Homo sapiens: one gene and its partners. The protein of the gene in region 5 interacts with the protein of the main gene of each other region in a pairwise test. Each region holds a gene or a part of one and is shown on either strand. Other genes may lie near its edges.

Region 1 (3,520 bases), on a different chromosome or scaffold from region 5:
AATAGAATATATAGAAACAGTATATATAATATAAAATATACAATATACAGTATACGTTATATATTATATACATATAGTGTATATACACACAGTGCATATACTATATATAGTGGTGTATATGTATATACATGTATATATACATATATATAGTGGTGTGTGTGTATATATATATTATATATACTACATTCTGTTTATCCATTCACCCATCAGTGGGAGTTTGGTTTATTTCAACCTTTTAGCTGTTGTAAATGATGTCATTGTGCGCCTGACATACAAATATCTGTTGCACTCTGTTCTTTTGAGTATATACCTATAAGTGAAGTTGCTGGATCATATGGTAATTCTGTGTTTAATTTTTTGAGGAACCACCATTCCGTTTTCCATGGTGGCTGAGACATTTTTAGATTCCCACCAACAATGCAAAAGGGTTCTCATTTCTCCATGTCCTCACCAATATTTGTTATTCTCTGGGTTTTGTTTTTGTTTTTAATAAGTCATCCCAGTGGTGTGAAGTGGCATCTCCTTGTGGTTTTGACTTGCATTTCCCTATGATTAGTGATACTGAGCATCTTTTCTTGTGCTTTTGGCCATTTGGATATTTTCCCTGGAGACACAGCTATTCAAGTCCTTTGAACACATTTTAAACTGGATAGTTTGTCTTTTGTTGTTGAGTCATAGAAGTTCTTTATATATTCTGGATATTAATGTCTTATCAGATATATAATTTACACATTTTTCTCTTATTTCATGGGTTGTTTTTTCACTCTTTTATAGTGTCATTTGATGCAAAGAAGGCTTTTATTTTGATGAAGCCCAGTTTCTTTTCTTTTTCTTTTCTTGCCTATGTTTTTAGTGTCATATCTAAGAAATCATTGCCTAATCTAAGATCATGAAGAAGTTCCTTTATGTTTTCTTCTAAGAGTTTTATAGTTTTAGCCCTTATATTTGGGTCTTTGATTCATTTTGAGTTAATTTCCACATATCAAATCCTGCTTTTAACGTCTATATTATTTTGTCTTCTGAGGACAAAGACAGTCATAGGACATTTCTGAACTGGATTTGAATCCCCTGTCCCTCAGGAGTCAATGTAAATATTCGTCTTGTCTAGCTTCTAGCATCCACCTGCTCCACCTTGAGTTGGGTTAGCTGCTACCTTCTCTGAGCTCCCAGGGTGGTGAGACGCAGCCCTAATGCAGGACTTATCACTGTCTAAAGCATTATAGCCTGAATCTCTCTCCCTTGTAATACCAGGGACATGTCTCTCTCCATTAATTTATTATGTTTCCAAATATTTGGAGCATCTACCATAATTTTATCTCTTGCTCATCATTTTCCAGCCTATACTAAGATTCTTAGTTGATTATAGGCTCTCAAATACTTACAGATTTGAATTAATAATCATAATAACAACTTAAACTTATTGAGCATCTACTCTCTGCCGGGTATGTGATTAAACCCTTTGCATGGGTCATACTGATCCAATCCACAGCTCTTTTTGGATAGGTACTATTGTAGTCATCTTCACATAATAGATGCAGCAAAGAGAGGCTAAAACAATCTCAAGGTCACATAAAAGTAATAGCAGGGCTAGTGTTTAACCCAGGCAGTTCACGTGCAGAGCCAATGCTCCTAGCTGGTCTGTTACAAGTTCCACTTGAGGGACTGAGAGCAGCTCAGTAAAACAAATTCCCAGTAAAACTCCCTTGTTCCAGGGCTTAATCCTGGAATCTCAGAGTCCTCCCTCACACACAGTGTGGAAATCCCTTCAGAGGTCTCTGAAAGGCTTTTGATCACCCACATACTCTCTGTCTCCCTACCTCTTGGAGCGGCTTATTCTATTGTTGATGGGCTTCAGGTGTGATTTACACATTCAACAAGATCTGAGATAGATTTGGACAGAAGTCCTACCTTCGGGGCTTCCTGGTTATGTGACCTTGGGCATATTTAACCCCCACTACCTCAACTGCAAAATGGGGAGCACAATACCATGCATGGCATTGAGTTGTGAAGCTTCCATGAGGCGATGTTCAAGGCCTGGTGCATTTGAAGAACTCAATGACTGTTGGGTATTGTTGCATCATAAACTCATCATTTCAGTGTCTGTCTCCTTCCTGTGACTGGGCTGTGCACTCCTGGAGGATATAAGATGGTGTTTTGTTCATCTTAGCACAGGGATTGGCACTTGGTAGACACCCACTGGATGCTTGTTGAATGAACAAATGAATGAATGGACAAATGAACAGGGCCTCAAGTGAACAAACAAATGGCAGTGCTAATGTGGGAACCTGGGACAAGACTTGGTGATTTGTAAGCCCCCAGGCAGAGGTGGTAAAGCACCTTTTGTTATGTGTATTCAAGCATCCATCCAGCCAAAAGTGCTGGATTCAGGAAAGATGGCATCTAGCCCAGTGAGGTAAGAAAAAGCAGGGCTTTCTTCCCAGAACATCACACCTTCTGGGTACCAGAAACTGCTGCACACATCATTCCATTCAGTCCCTCTCTGGGAAACAACAGCATGTAAGGGTCTCTGGCACAGATTCCAGAGGCCAACTGCCAGCGTTCAAACCCTGGCTCTGCAGTAACCAGCCAAGAGACATTAGATGAGCTCAGTAACTTCTCTGTGCCTCAGTTTCCCCATCTATAAAATGGAGATCATAAGGCCCCACCCCATAAGGTTATTAGTAGAAATTAAAGAAGTTCTTATATGTAAAGTCCAGGGCACATGGTAAGCACTAAATAAGTATGAATTCATTATCATTATGAGTTAAGTGGAACTGTTGCCTCCATGGGGCATCTAAGGTTCAGAGAGGATGAGTATCCAGCCCAGGGTCACACAGGCCATATGGGAAACAGCAGGAAGGCAAAGCCAAGTCCATATGAAGATAGAGACACATTCTTTCAATAATAATAAAATAATCTCACCACCTGTCATGTGTCGAGTCTTTAGTACATGCCAAGCACTGTTCTGAGCATTGCCTGTTTGTGTCATTGTATCTTCCCCACAACTCTATCAGCTAAGTGATTATCTCCATATACCAGGTGAGGAAACTGAGGCCCAGAGAGGACAGGTCACTTGAGCAACGTCACACAGGTGGAAGGAGGATTGTAGAACCTGTGCTTTTTAACAACTGCTGCTGCTGTGACTCACCAGAGTCTGAGTATTGAGAAGAAAGAACACACTGAAGGCAGAAGAGTCAGAAAGAGCTGAGCGAGTGAGGAGCTGCCTCCAGTGAAAGTCCAAGGGGCTCACCCCACACCAGCTGAGTGGTCCCAAGCTCCTTCCTGCTGTGTGTGTGTGTGTGACACATAATGGCTGTTTTCTTTTCTTTCCTCTGCAGGTTTGAGACGGGCCAACTCAGTCCAGGCCTCCAGACCTGCCCCAGGCTCGGTGCAGAGCCCAGCGCCACCTCAGCCTGGGCAGCCAGGTACCTGCCACTCACCTGCTAGCACCTGCCCAGGCTGTCACTCGGCTGTGACCCTCATACCTCCCATCCCTGCTTGCAGAGCATGCTGGGCTTTC
Region 2 (3,520 bases), on a different chromosome or scaffold from region 5:
CAGCTGGGAGTGGTGGTACACATCTGTAATCCCAGCTACTCAGAAGGATGAGTTGACACCGGGAGTTTGAGACCTGTCTAGGCAACATGGAGAGACCCCCTCCTCCTCAAAAAACAAACAAAAACTAAAAACAGGACGGGCGCGGTGGCTCATGCCTGTAATTCCAGCACTTTGGGAGGCCAAGGCGGGCAGATCACGCGGTCAGGAGATCAAAACCATCCTGGCTAACACAGTGAAACCCCATCTCTGCTAAAAATACAAAAAATTAGCGGGGCATGGTGGCAGGCGCCTGTAGTCCTAGCTACTCGGGAGGCTGAGGCAGGAGAATGGCATGAACCCAGGAGGCGGAGCTTGCAGTGAGCCGAGATAGTGTCACTGCCCTCCAGCCTGGGCGACAGAGCAAGACTCCTTCTCAAAAACAAAAACAAACAAACAAAACTAAAAACAAACTCACTTACACTAAATTAGTAAATTCTAGAATTCTAAGTTGATATGTTCCTACCTTTTTAAGGTTCTAAGGCTCTAAAAGTATGACTGTAAGTTTCCATGAGTGTATGTTTTCATCAGTCTAGGTTTCTAGATCAGACAAAGCTGGCAATCCACCAGTTGAATCTGGTTCATACTTTGTGGCATATACAGATTTCTCTCTCTCTCTCTTTTTTTTTTTTTTTTTTGAGACAGAGTTTTGCTATTGACGCCCAGGCTGGAGTACAATGGCACGATCTAGGCTCACTGCAACCTCCGCCTCTGAGGTTCAGGCGATTCTCCTGCCTCATCCTCCTGAGTAGCTGGGATTAGAGGCACGCGCCACCACACCCAGCTAATTTTTGTATTTTTAATAGAGACAGGGTTTTGCCGTGCTGGCCAGGCTGGTCTCAAACACCCAACCTCCAGTGATCCCCCCACCTTGGCCTCCCAAAGCGCTGGGATTATAGGCGTGAGCTACCGCGCCTAACCAGGTTTCTTATTGTTTTGAGACAGGGTCTCAACCTGTTGCCCAGGCTGGAGTGCAGTGGCACAATCTCGGCTCACTGCAACCTCTGCTTCCCGGGCTCAGGAGATTCTCCCACCTCAGCCTGTTGACTAGCTGGAACTACAGGCATGCGCCACCACACCTGGCTAATGTTTATATTTTTAGTAGAGACGGGGTTTCACCATGTTGGCCAGGCTGGTCTCGAACTCCTGGGCTCAAGCGATCCGCCCGCCTCGGCCTCTCAAAGTGCTGGGACTACAGGTTTCTAGATCAGCCAGGTTTCTTGAGCCAGCGCCATGGCTCATGCCTGTAATCCTAGCATTTTGGGAGGCCAAGGTGGGCAGATTGCCCGAGCCCAGGAGTTCAAGACCAGCCTGGCCATCATGGTGAAACCCCGCCTCAATTAAAAATACAAAAATTAGCCAGGCATGGTGGTGCGGGCCTGTAGTCCCAGCTACTCGGGACTCCCGAGGCGGGAGAATCTCATGAACCTGGGAGGTGGAGGTTGCAGTGAGCTGACATTGCGCCACTGCACTCCAGCCTGGGCAACAGAGTGAGACTCCACCTCAAATAAATAAATAAATAAATAAAGTTCCAAAAATCTTAGTATCAGAGATCCATCTTGTGATTATAAACTGCTGAGTTACTAAAGTTCTAAGATTTGGAGGGAACTGATTCTGACCTTTGGGTTTTAAGAATTCATGATTATGATCATCTATATTTTATGATTCTAGCGCTCCGTGTTTCTAAGATGTTAAGGTCCCAAGGGTCAAAGGTGCTAGGGTGTCATGTTTTAAAGGCTTATGATTATGACGTTCCATATCTCTGAGGCTCCTCAGGGTCTTTGCCAGTTTTAATGCTGATGATTAAACACTTCTAAGGTTCCAGACCTCTATGAATACTAAGTACTAAGGTTCAAGGGTCTACAGTTCTAAAGGTCTAAGGTCTTTCTATAACTATAAAGTTCTCTGGTCTTTGCTAATATTGTTCTGATACATCAAAGTAGGGTGACTACTAGGCACTCTGGCTTACCCCTGTAATCAAAGCACTTTCGGAGGCCGAGGTGGGAGGGTTATTTTAGCCCAGGAGTTCCACACCAGCCTGGGCAACATAGCAAGACCCCATCTTACAAAAAAATTTTTTTGTTTTGTTTTGAGACGGAGTTAAGCTCTTGTCACTTAGGATGGATTGAAATGGTGTGATCTCAGCTCACTGAAACCCCCATCTCCCGGGTTCAAGTGATTCTCCTGCCTCAGCCTCCTGGGTAGCTGAGATTACAGGTGCCCACCACCACACCCATCTAATTTTTGTATTTTTAGTAGTGTCACCATATTGGTCAGGCTGGTCTCAAACTCCTGATCTCAAGTGATCCATCCGCCTCAGCCTCCCAAAGTGCTGGGATTACAGGCATCCGCCACCATGCTTCGCCAAAAAAAAAAATTATTTTTAATTAGCCAGGCATGGTGGCGCATGCCTGTAGTTCCAGCTATTCAGGAGGCTGAGGTGGGAGGATCACTTGAGTCCAGGAGTTCAAGGCTGCAGTGAGCCATGATCACACCACTGCACTCCAGCCTGGGTGAAGAGTGAGACCCTGACTCAAAAAAAAAAAAAAAATGGTAGGGTGACCCACTGTACTGGTTGGCCCAAGGCTGAGAGTTTCGGTGGTAAAAGCAGGAAGGTTTTGGTCACTCTATGTCAGATTTCTCAAGATCCACATTTCTAATTGGAAACTCCAAAGGTTTAGTATTATCAAGTCCCAAAGGTTCCTGTGTATTACAGTTTCAGTTTCTAAGGGCCTATGATCCTAGGGAACAATGACTAAAATTTCTTAGGTCTGTGATGATAACGTTTCACATTTCCAAAGCTCTTTTTTTTTTTTTTTTTTTTTTTTTTTTGAGATAGGTTCTTGCTTTACTGCTGGGGCTGGAGTGCAGTGGCGCGATCTTGACTCACTGCAATCTCCACCTCACAGTCTCAGGCCATCCTCCCACCTCAGCCTCCCAAATAGCTGGAACTACAGATGCATGCCACCACGCCTGGCTAATTTTTTTTTTTATTTTTATTTTTAGTAGAGACAGGGTTTCACTATGTTGGCGAACATGGTCTCGAACTCCTGCACTCAAGAGATCTGTCCACCTTTGCCTCCCAAAGTGCTGGGATTACAGGCGTGAGCCACCGCGCCAGGCCAGAGGTCTTCATTTCAAGAGGTCTAAGAATCTCTTAGACATTTCAAGTTCCAAGGATCTGATGGCTCTGCATTTCGGGATTCTAAGGGAATATGCTTACAGAGTCCCACCATTCTGGGACTGTACATTTCTAAGGCTCTAAGGCTGTGCTGACCTATACAGCAGTCACAAGCCACATGTGGCTATTTAAATTTAATTAAAACAGGCCGGGTGCCGTGGCTCATGCCTGTAATCTCAGCACTTTGGGAGGCCGAGACATGTGGATCACCTGAGGTTGGGAGTTCGAGACCAGCCTGACCAACATGGAGAAACCCCGTCTCTAGTAAAAATACAAAATTAGCTGGGCGTGGTGGCACATGCC
Region 3 (3,520 bases), on a different chromosome or scaffold from region 5:
AAAAAGCAAAATATGTTATAAATAATGAGGGCATTCCTTCAAAAGCACAAGTTTTCTTAAAAACGGGACTTTAAAAATAGAATAAACAGTGATGGGATAGAGTAAAATAGTTTATTATAATTGAGGTTTAGATGACAGTGAGTTTCTTACAGTAATTTACCACATCATACATCCAAAGAATGTAATTCAAATGCATTATAAATACAAAGGAGAAACATCTCTTAGTGTTGGTTTATAAGCTACAGAAAATAGTATTTCATATTTTTCAATCCTTGAATGTGTAACTACTTACTGACTACTTGTAAATTATTTTCTAAAACTTCCCTAAGTTTGCAGAACTGAGGAGCAAATTTTGCAATAATCTTCTAAAAAGGTATACTTCCAATATTAATTTAAAGACAGCTTAACATATTCCGTATTTTTTAATTTATAATTTAAATATAATTACTAATATAAAAATTCAGCAGCCAAACACAGGTAAAACATATCATTTTAAAAGATCTCAAAGGTATATCAAAAAATAATCGATAAAGAATTATGAATCATACAACAAAGAGATGAATATGTATTGAAAAATTTAGTAATATGGGCCTTGATTAAAATTAATATATATATGACCTGTCTTAACTTGGCATCAAAAAGCAAAGCAAAAACAAATACAAAACTTTCTTTTAGGAACTTTTATATGTTCAGAGCTACTTAAGAGTATTGAGAGAAAATGGGCTGATGTATTTTATTTCCACATCTTGCAAAGCTAAAGATGATGTGCAGATAATGACATCACAAAGTAGGCACAAGTAGAATTTGGTTTTTAATTTGTTTTGTCTATCATGCTCTCATTTCAGAACCAAAATTACAATTAAATTAACCCTCAAATAGGTGTTGGGATGCATTAAGTAATTAAAATGGGCATTACAAAGACTAAAGTCATTTCAAAAAATATGCAATATGCTAAAATTCCATGTAGTGCCTGTAATGTAAAAACATTCTAAGCAAGTGAGACTATAGCTATCCTGCATGTACATGTACGCACTTATTTAATATGAAGCCACAAATTCATATATTCCACTTCTGCATAGCTCAGAGAGCAAAAGCTAACACTAGATTAGTAATGCTTGATCCCTTTGTACATGAAGTGTATCATGTAATAGAGAAATTAGATTCCACAAACTAATTTCTGCCATATATTTTTACACTATTTATAAACATATCTGATCTTCCATATGATATGTAGAGAAATTGAAATAGCAATTCACATTGTATTGTAGAATCTAATCAGGAAGCACATGTTATATTATTAATGTTTATTGATTTGTAAGCTTTATACATTCTGTCCAAATTCTACAAGTAAAAACAGCTCTGAAATCCTTTTGATCTTTCTTTTTCTACAGCTAAGGTATTTTTAGTGTTTAAATAGCAGTTGATGTCTTATCTATTGTCTTATACGGTACTGGATTCATTCCTGGTTACTATAATACTCAATTTAACAACTAGTAATATTAATGCTTTTTCCAAGCTTGGGACATATATAGCAGATAATATAAACATGTTTACTATGATTTATGATACTATACTACTCACTATCATGAATACAAAGTAATTAACAGATAAAGCTATTATGAACGCAAACAAGAGAACCATGCTCCCCTCAAAAAAGAAAAAAAGAAATGGAACATAAACTGTAAATACTTGTATATTTCCTTCTAACACTATCTAGTATATTAGACAAATAGCTAACAATAAATCATTTGTTTATTCATGTTAAATAAATTTAATATGTACATTAACTTCTGACTTAACTTAAAAGTATATGGAATGTTTTCCAGAGACTATTTTGACTGTGTCAATTACCCTAGATACCAAAGTTGTTGTATTGTGTTGCTTGATGAAATAGGACATAGATCAACCCTCAAAACCAGTATTACAAGCCTGGCAAATAGCATCACATTTGGGTGACGCACAGAATCCATCACCCTAGGGAAAAATGCATTGGGTCATAGTACAGAGTCTTTACATGTTCCATATTATTTCTACATAACGTTTTGAGATGATAGAATTGTAAACTATAAAGTGGTAGCCCATAAAGTGATATACTCACAAACAGTCCTGTCCCTTAACTGCTCCTCTTAACAGAAATGAGACTTAAAAAATGATCTCAGAAGCATTTCTTACAATACACTGAAAGGTGGCATTTTGATTTATAATTTTTTTCATTTAAAAAAATTCCTTAGTAAATTCAGAGCAGATATAAGTATTATGATAACAATTGATTCATTATGTTTAAACTCCATACTCATTTCAAACTTTTAGACTTCATAATGTAGGTCATGTTAACTCCTTAAAAGATTCACATTTCAAGCACAGAGTTAATAGTTAGCATTCTAAATTCCACCATCAAGATGTGTCTAAGTATTATCGGTCTACATACATTCCACATATAAAACACACCTATAATAGCATGCACATATATTGGCAATAATTCAAACATAGCAAAGCTATCGTGAGTACTTCAAACATTTGCAGGCAATTACATTGCTAGAACTCCTCTCATATTATAGGTATCCTATGACAAGCTACTAAAAAATTACACAAATCAAAAAGTGTTACCTTTGTTCAAATAATACTGCTGTTCATTATACAACAGAAAACATCATCCTTAATCTCTCAGGAACCAAGATAGTGGTGGATTCTTGGAGCAGAAGTAGTGCAGAATGGTTTGCGGCAAAATCGAAACATATTGTTTAAGTAAACCTTAAGGGGAGGGGAGCATATGCGCAATTGATGGATTTTTTTTTTTTTTTTTGGTATCATCTTCCACAAAACCTCCCACCAACCCCTCCCCACCACTTACCAGTAAACAATCTGCGATATTAAGGGACTGCAACTCTAAACACCTCCCTTTGCCTTATTTCCTTCTTGCTAAACTTTATTGCTTTTCCTCATTTTTGAAGCAACAAACAAAATTCATTAAATAAAAATTTATTAACAGATGCAGCCATAACATGAAATGTATGTTTGAAAACTTTGTAATAAATAAAATGAATCTAGACTTACTCCAAGAAACTTGCACTATGCTGATGTGAACAACATATACATTAAGTTCCTAAAGTTTTTCCAAACAAATCTTTAACTAAAGAAGCCATAAGCAAAAAAGGAATGCCTACGATTTGAACTAGAGTCTGTAACTCTCGCAAGAAAAACTGAGAAACATATCAAGTAAATCAAAACTGTCAAATTTATAAGCAGAGAACACTTCAATGCCCCAAATTTGCGGAATGCTTTTTATAGTCATAAATGCCTTAAAGACTGTACTCTTCCTTGTGTGACACTTAATTTTCACTATATATATTATTCCTTAAATGTGCTCTAGGTAAAGAAGGAAAAAAAAAATCTATCAGGAAGAATTTGGGTTAAAAGCAAAGTCCACGACAAGTAACCGTAAGATTTAAACCTCAGGAACAATTCACAAAAGAAAAGTCGAAACAGTACTTAGTTCTGAGCCACCGAATGGGGCGGAGGG
Region 4 (3,520 bases), on a different chromosome or scaffold from region 5:
TTGGGGTAGCTACTTTTATTGACCACATTTTAATTTTCATCTGTGGGCCACCTTTTATTTTGCCCTTATAGGGTCTTACCCTTAAAAGTAGCTTCTTCCATTCATTTCACATACTCTTATTTTTCTTCTTTTCCACCTTCTCTTTATTGTGTAGATTGTTAAAAAGAATGTTTGTAGTTTTATACCCACTAGATAAATTGTAAAAAAACAAAAACAAAATGCAAAACAAATAAAAAAGAAAGATCACTTTTGATAGAAGAAGATTGGAAAGTTTTTGCATTAATTTTTGTGAATTTAATGTTGGTAAGAAATCACATATTTTCTCTTTATCTAAGTGACATTCACGTATATAGTTTTTGAAAAGTGAAAATAATTCACCATAATGATTATCAATCATTAATATTAATGATAGCTATTCCTACTAGCATAAGACTTTGGAAATTTATTTATTTCATTCATTTAGCAAATATATATATGTATATACATTTGTAAGCATATATGTGCATACACACACACACACACACACACACATTGAGCAGCCACATTGTGCTAGGCAGTATTCTAAATAGTAGCACACTGTGCTAGGCAGTATTCTAGATGTAGGTGATACATAGACCATTAAATCATGATTTTGCCTTTCTAAGGCTCGCTGACTAGTGAGGAGGAGACATGACATAAGTGCAGTGCACAGAAATATCTGTATAGATATAGACATGCAAATCACTGCTGGGAACATCACGGATGCAGTGGCTTATCTGCTTGGTGGCAAGGGGTGAGGGAAGAGGACTTGAGAGAGGAGGATTGAACAGAGTCCTGGAAGATCACAAGACCCTAAATAGGTTGAATGTTTGTTTTCCTTTAAAAAAACAAGTGTCTTCTTGGAACTTGCATTTTAGTTTAATTTGCTAAGTATTCCCAAATTTGAAATTTGGGACTCTTAAAAGAGTCCTGTATAGGAACCACCTGGGTTTTGTTGACCTCTCCAGGTGATTTGTTTTTTAAATTGTGCAAAGTAAAATTGCAGAGCTAGTCGTTTTTATAAGGACATCACCTATTTTGTATTTGATGGTTGGATACAGCTGGTTGGTAATCAGCAAATATATTTTTGTGTAGCAGCTTCCGTATGTTTATGTCATTCACTCAGCATTGTTCAGGAAAAGAGGATCAGTAGGTTTTACCTAACTTTGTAACTGGTGGGAAAATGTAGATAGAGAAAGAGGTGAAATAACTTTCTCAAGGTCACACTGTGATTCATTCAGAGGCAGATCCAGAAATAGAAACTGAGTCAATGAATCAAGTCTAATGTCATTATTATTTCTGTTTGGATATACAATGTTTTAAGGCCATATAGAGAGTAAAAACTGTTTATAAAAAATGTGATCAGATTTAGGGCCTTTCTTTAATTAGATTTTCCAGTTCCTGTTTTTAATAAGGTGTCCTCCTTTAATGGTTGAACATCTGGCCTTCCTTGAGCTGGATGAAGGGTGATTGTTGGCCAGAGTGAACCAGATTTTCTCTAAGCAGCTCTCATGGAAACTGTTCTTATGGTGGTCAAATGAATCCAGATTGACACAGGCCCTTGTGTCTCAGCTGTCAACTCTTCATGTCATCTGCCACTACGTTTGCTTCTTTACTCTCCTCTGCTATTTTTTTACGGGTGTCTTGGAAATTACCAGAGGCTTGGGGAACACTGGCATTGTCCTTAGGGAAATTTCTTTTTGGCCTTAATTTTGCATGTATTTGGATCAATTAATTGCCAGCTGCCTTTGAAGCAGGTGATCATTATATCTATAAGCTTCCATAAGCATCTTTTATTTTTAAACCATAGAATGAGGGTTGTCAGCATTACAGGAAGAAACAGATGTTTTTCGCTTTTTACCGCCTTCCAAATGTAGGGAGAAAATACAAGTGAAAAGGGATTTCTATGGCACATGTCTGTGTCTCTTTGGTAGATCTAAAAACATTTAGCAATGAGGGAGACCAAACTTTATCTTGTTTTAGCTATTAAGAAACTGATGATGCCTTAGGCCATTGCATTTAAGTATTTCATAATTAATGTGTTTGAAATACATCTTTTTCAGTGTTTAGTAGAAAAAATGGCGTCTGAAATTCGGGAGGTTCCTTTACATATTAAGTATAACAGAAGCTTGGTACTGGAGTTTTGCAGTTAATTAAAGTTTAGATATCCAACGTGTTAAATTTGTGATGCTAAATCGCTTTTGATAGGAATCTTTCCCAAGTCAATTATGTGCTTATCTTTTTTTTTAAACACATGGAATAAAAGTTTAATCTGTTTTAAAGGGCTTAATGTCATCTTCAGGCACATCATTGTTACATCTTATAAAAACATTAGTGATGTCCTCAACAGCTATTGAAGTGTGTGGGCTGTTGGCTTCAGTCTGTAGTTTCTGAGTTTTTGTGTCTGTGTAGTTTCTTGATTGTTTTCTTGCTGCCAGCTATTTATTGTTATAGCTGCCTTTTTTTTTTTTTTTTGAGACAGAGTCTCGCTCTGTTGCCCAGGCTGGAGTGCAGTGGCACGACTTCTGCTCACTGCAAGCTCCGCCTCCTGAGTTCACGCCATTCTCCTGCCTCAGCCTCCTGAGTAGCTGGGACTACAGGCGCCCACCACCATGCCCAGCTAATTTTTTGTATTTTTAGTACAGACGGGGTTTCACCGTGTTAGCCAGGATGGTCTTGATCTCCTGACCTCGTGATCCGCCCGCCTCGGCCGCCCAAAGTGCTGGGATTACAGGCGTGAGCCACCGCGCCCGGCTATAGCTGTCTTTAGTCTCTTTGCTCCTGTCCCTCAATTTTTTTGTAATTTGACTTTTCTGATCAATTTGCAATTGGCTTACAATTCCTGTAATTATGATATTGGTTACACTTATTGTACTTCTAAGTGCCAGACTCTGTTGGTGCATTACATAACTATCTGTAATCCTTAACAACAGTCTTGAGGTGTAGCTGTTTATCCTCATTTTTCGAATGAAAAAACCCAGGCTCAGACAGTAAAGTAACTTCTTGTCTAAGGGCATTAAGCTAGTAAGTGGCCCATCCAGGATATGTCCTTAGAAAACCAAATCTGTTGTTAATATGTATAAGATGAAACCAAGTAGATCATTGAGCTTTTGGAGGACTAGCTAATTAATAAAGTGCATAGGCTCTAGAACTTGGATTGTGCAACTCTGATTTTGGCCTTTCTAAAGGTTATCTTGAATTTTTTTTTTTTTTTTTTTTTGGAGACAGATTTCACTCTTGTCGCCAAGGCTGGAATGAAGTGGCGTGATCTTGGCTCACTGCAACCTCCGCCCACTGGGTTCAAGCAATTCTCCTGCCTCAGCTTCCAGAGTAGCTGGGATTATAGGCGCCCATGACCACACCCAGCTAATTTTTGTATTTTTAGTAGAGACAGGATTTCACCATGTAGGCCAGGCTGGTCTTGAACTCCTGACCTCAGGTGTTCTATCTGCCTTGGCCTCCCCAAGTGCTAGGAGGCCTATCTTGATTTTTATATCAGTAG
Region 5 (3,544 bases):
CTCTTTGCAGAGGGGACAGGGAGCTCCAGCCCGAGAGCCTATTATTAGCAGTGAGGAGCAGAAGCAGCTGATGCTGTACTATCACAGAAGACAAGAGGAGCTCAAGGTAGCAGGGGACAGATGGGCTTTCTGCAGTGCTGGCGCCCACACATAGCCTGTGTGCCTTACCTGGGGCTGCTGGGGAGCAGTGAGCTCTGCAGAATGCCGGGGAGGGGTCTTTCTAGAGCTTCTGTCTGCAGGTCTGTCGGGGTCCTGCCAGGTGTCCCCTGGTGTTAGACATGGCAGTATCCTGCTCCTAGAGGGCAGGGAGAGGGGGAGGTCAGTCATGGACTCTTTCTTCAGTCTCTTTATGTGCAAAACACTTTCCTGAAATGCCTGCCTGAATAAAACATACTTATTTCCAGAGATTGGAAGAAAATGATGATGATGCCTATTTAAACTCACCATGGGCGGATAACACTGCTTTGAAAAGACATTTTCATGGAGTGAAAGACATAAAGTGGAGACCAAGATGAAGTTCACCAGCTGATGACACTTCCAAAGAGATTAGCTCACCTTTCTCCTAGGCAATTATAATTTAAAAAAAAAAAAAAGGCCACTTACTGCCCTCTGTAAAAGATGTTAACATTTCTAGTTTTCTTTTAGTGTGAATTTTTAAAATAGCAGTTATTCAAGGTTTTAGAACTTAATAAATACCTAGTCAGAAGAAAATGTGTAAATCGTTTTTGTTTCAGGACTATTTAGTATGTCATGGTTTTCTTTGATAAAATACTAAACTTTTGGCCGGGCGCGGTGGCTCACGCCTGTAATCCCAGCACTTTGGGAGGCCGAGGCAGGCAGATCACGAGGTCAGGAGATCAAGACCATCCAGGCTAACACGGTGAAACCCCGTCTCTACTAAAAATACAAAAAATTAGCCGGGCATGGTGGCAGGCGCCTGTAGTCCCAGCTACTCGGGAGGCTGAGGCAGGAGAATGGCGTGAACCCGGGAGGTGGAGCTTACAGTGAGCCAAGATCACTGCCACTGCACTCTATCCTGGGCAACAGAGCGAAACTCTTGTCTCAAAAAAAAAAAAAAAAAAAAAAAAAGCTACACTTTTTTTTCTTCCTGATTGTTTTATATTCTCATGATAACTGGTTTATTGGAGGAAAGCTGATGACTGGCAGTGACCACTAGTGACCACTAGATGCCGCCAGGCACTCAGCATGCTTTTTCTCCTGGCCCTCTAGATCTATTGGAAGCTGAACTCCCAGCCTTGCTGGAGAGACTTCTCTAACCCTGCTGCGGGGTCTAACTGTAGCCTTCTTTAACCCTGCTGCGGGGTCTAACTGTAGCCTTCTTTAACCCTGCTGCGGGGTCTAACTGTAGCCAGGCGTTGCCTGGCCTTGAAGGTGAAGTTTGCCTCCTGGTTGGTGCCTCTCTGGCCTTGTATTCTGGGAGCGAAAGCTACAACCATGATGAAGGTTGAGTAGCAAACTCATCTGACTTTGAAACTTAAATTCTTCTGGAGTTTCTCAGCTTCTCAAGTCTCCTTCATGAGAATAGATCCTGAAAACAAATCCAGATCCCGGTAGAGGGTGATGATTTCTCCCTATGGATGCGGGGTCTGATTCTAGGCCAGCTTCGTACGCAGCTCAGTGACCAACCACGGGATGGATGGGATCACTATCATCCTAACTGAGTATCTAGGACACCATTGAGTTTAAAGACTCCAACTCATCATCACTGTAAACCATCCAAGTATCCTGCAAACCCTGGCACTTTAGCATCTGAAAGACACCTGCCAGACTGCCTGTGGCAGTCCCTCATGCTTGACTTTTGGTGCCTAGGGTCCTGTTCTCCTGGTTAGAGGGAACTTGGTGTGCTCACACTGAGGGAAAGTGAAGGACGCGGGGCATCTTCCTGCCCTGGCCTTCCTGCCTTGGTGCCTGCGCTCCCCACCATCCTGCAAAGAGGAACCCTGGGAGTGAGTGGAGGTGGCAGGGGTTTGGTTCCTGCCTGCTGCCAGGCGGCCTTGCCCAGGGGGTGGGTCCCAGACCTGAGAGCAAAGCGCTGTTCTCTGAAGTGCTTTGTAGCTGACTGCATCTTGTGCCTTACTCTTTTGGTTGATTTTCAAATTTTGTAAAAGCAAATTTGCATCTATTTTCTCTTTTACTTGGTTATAGTTTTAAATGTCTCTATGAAAGGGTTTTGACCTTGGATGATGTAGTATATGCAATAAGATGCTGTGATTTTATTTCAGGAGCATCCTGTCTTTGTCAGTGTATAGTTCGTGTGTGTTAAATTCATGCTCAGACTTGTAAGAAACAGTTAACCAAGCCATGTGATCATAGTAGCTCTTTTCAGGGAACTACTACTTCAATATCATTAGAAAGTCTTACTGAGCCTGCAGTAGGAATACTCTTTTGGCCGTGATAGTTATCCCATTGCTTCATGTAATCAGCAGAACTTACTAACCAAAAAGTCACTCACGCATGACACTACACTCCTTAAATACCCATGCGAGAAGAACCATCCTCTCTCCCTGCCCTTGTCTGCCTCAAAAGCCTCTCTGAGCTTGGTGTGTTTGGGTGCAGCAGATCTCAGGAAGTACGTGAGTAGCTTATTTGCAAGCCATCTGTGACGGCGGGGGGCAGGTGGTGCCCGCTGTGGCACCGTGCTGTGTGTGTTCCCTTTGCATCCACTTGCTGACTCACCCAAGGTCACAGGTAGCTAGTGGTGGTAGGACCACAGGGTCACGTCCAGGAACTTTCCCAGGATTTCCCAAGAAATCAATTTATCAACAAAAGTAATCTTGCCAGTGTTAGACCACTGATCAGCTTAAGTCTGTGGTCTTGTTGTTATTTTCTTCTTTTTTTAATCCAGTCCCTGTTTGAGTCAATATCAAAAGGAAACCAAGTGTCTGCTGTATGCACGGTGCCCATCTAGGTCTGTGGTTTTGTCCTTTGACATAACTTGTCTTCTTATGTGGTTCTTTCATGGAGACCAGGAATGCTAGTAATAAAATTTGATACCACCTAAAACCTTTTCGACCATCAAACTGACAGCATCAGGCAGTATTTCTGTCACAAGATTACCTCGTTCCTTGGCAACTGCTCTGCAAAGAGTGTGCCATCAAGCTTGAAATGAACTGCCACATACTTGGAGCACAGTAGCCTTGAGAGGGTCTGAGCTCACTAAATTCCCTTCCAAAGCCTCAGCAACCACCCCCTTGAAGAAGTGACCAGAGAGAGCTGCTTGCCCCGACCTCTTGCCGTTCCTTGCAAGATAGGAGTTGCCCCTCTACACTACCAAAAACCCACTGGCCCTGGACAGGGCTCAAGGAGAGAGGTGGCTGATTTCCAGGAGAAGTTCGATACTAGACATAACAGTAACGGCAGCTGGCATTATGGGGACTTTGCTATTTCCCAGACGGTTGTACTAAGCACTTTACCTATATATTCTTTTCGTTTATACCTAAAAACAGCCAAATTAGAAAGAAACTACTATTGTCATCTCACGAGTTAGGAAACCAAAGTCCAGAGGGATTAAATTGCCCAAGGT

What was found.
Region 1: the proteins of CFAP298 (region 5) and RPH3A interact in a two-hybrid assay, tested with the Homo sapiens proteins (one large-scale study listed by BioGRID and IntAct).
Region 2: the proteins of CFAP298 (region 5) and SPTBN4 interact in a two-hybrid assay, tested with the Homo sapiens proteins (one large-scale study listed by BioGRID and IntAct).
Region 3: the proteins of CFAP298 (region 5) and TRPS1 interact in a two-hybrid assay, tested with the Homo sapiens proteins (one large-scale study listed by BioGRID and IntAct).
Region 4: the proteins of CFAP298 (region 5) and FMN2 interact in a two-hybrid assay, tested with the Homo sapiens proteins (one large-scale study listed by BioGRID and IntAct).

What each region holds. Positions count from the first base shown.
Region 1 is NC_000012.12:112,871,746-112,875,265, forward strand, and holds part of RPH3A (rabphilin-3A), read left to right. Parts: intron 1-822; exon of another isoform or gene 823-2,413; intron 2,414-3,039; exon of another isoform or gene 3,040-3,212; intron 3,213-3,338; coding exon 3,339-3,425; intron 3,426-3,520. UniProt on the Homo sapiens protein: Plays an essential role in docking and fusion steps of regulated exocytosis.
Region 2 is NC_000019.10:40,473,500-40,477,019, reverse strand, and holds part of SPTBN4 (spectrin beta chain, non-erythrocytic 4), read right to left. Parts: intron 1-3,520.
Region 3 is NC_000008.11:115,658,963-115,662,482, forward strand, and holds part of TRPS1 (zinc finger transcription factor Trps1), read right to left. Parts: intron 1-3,520. UniProt on the Homo sapiens protein: Transcriptional repressor. Binds specifically to GATA sequences and represses expression of GATA-regulated genes at selected sites and stages in vertebrate development. Regulates chondrocyte proliferation and differentiation.
Region 4 is NC_000001.11:240,094,881-240,098,400, forward strand, and holds part of FMN2 (formin-2), read left to right. Parts: intron 1-3,520. UniProt on the Homo sapiens protein: Actin-binding protein that is involved in actin cytoskeleton assembly and reorganization. Acts as an actin nucleation factor and promotes assembly of actin filaments together with SPIRE1 and SPIRE2.
Region 5 is NC_000021.9:32,598,834-32,602,377, reverse strand, and holds the end of CFAP298 (cilia- and flagella-associated protein 298), read left to right. Parts: exon of another isoform or gene 1-10; coding exon 11-106; coding exon of another isoform or gene 107-154; exon of another isoform or gene 155-404; coding exon 405-515; 3' UTR 516-3,024; downstream 3,025-3,544. UniProt on the Homo sapiens protein: Plays a role in motile cilium function, possibly by acting on outer dynein arm assembly. Seems to be important for initiation rather than maintenance of cilium motility.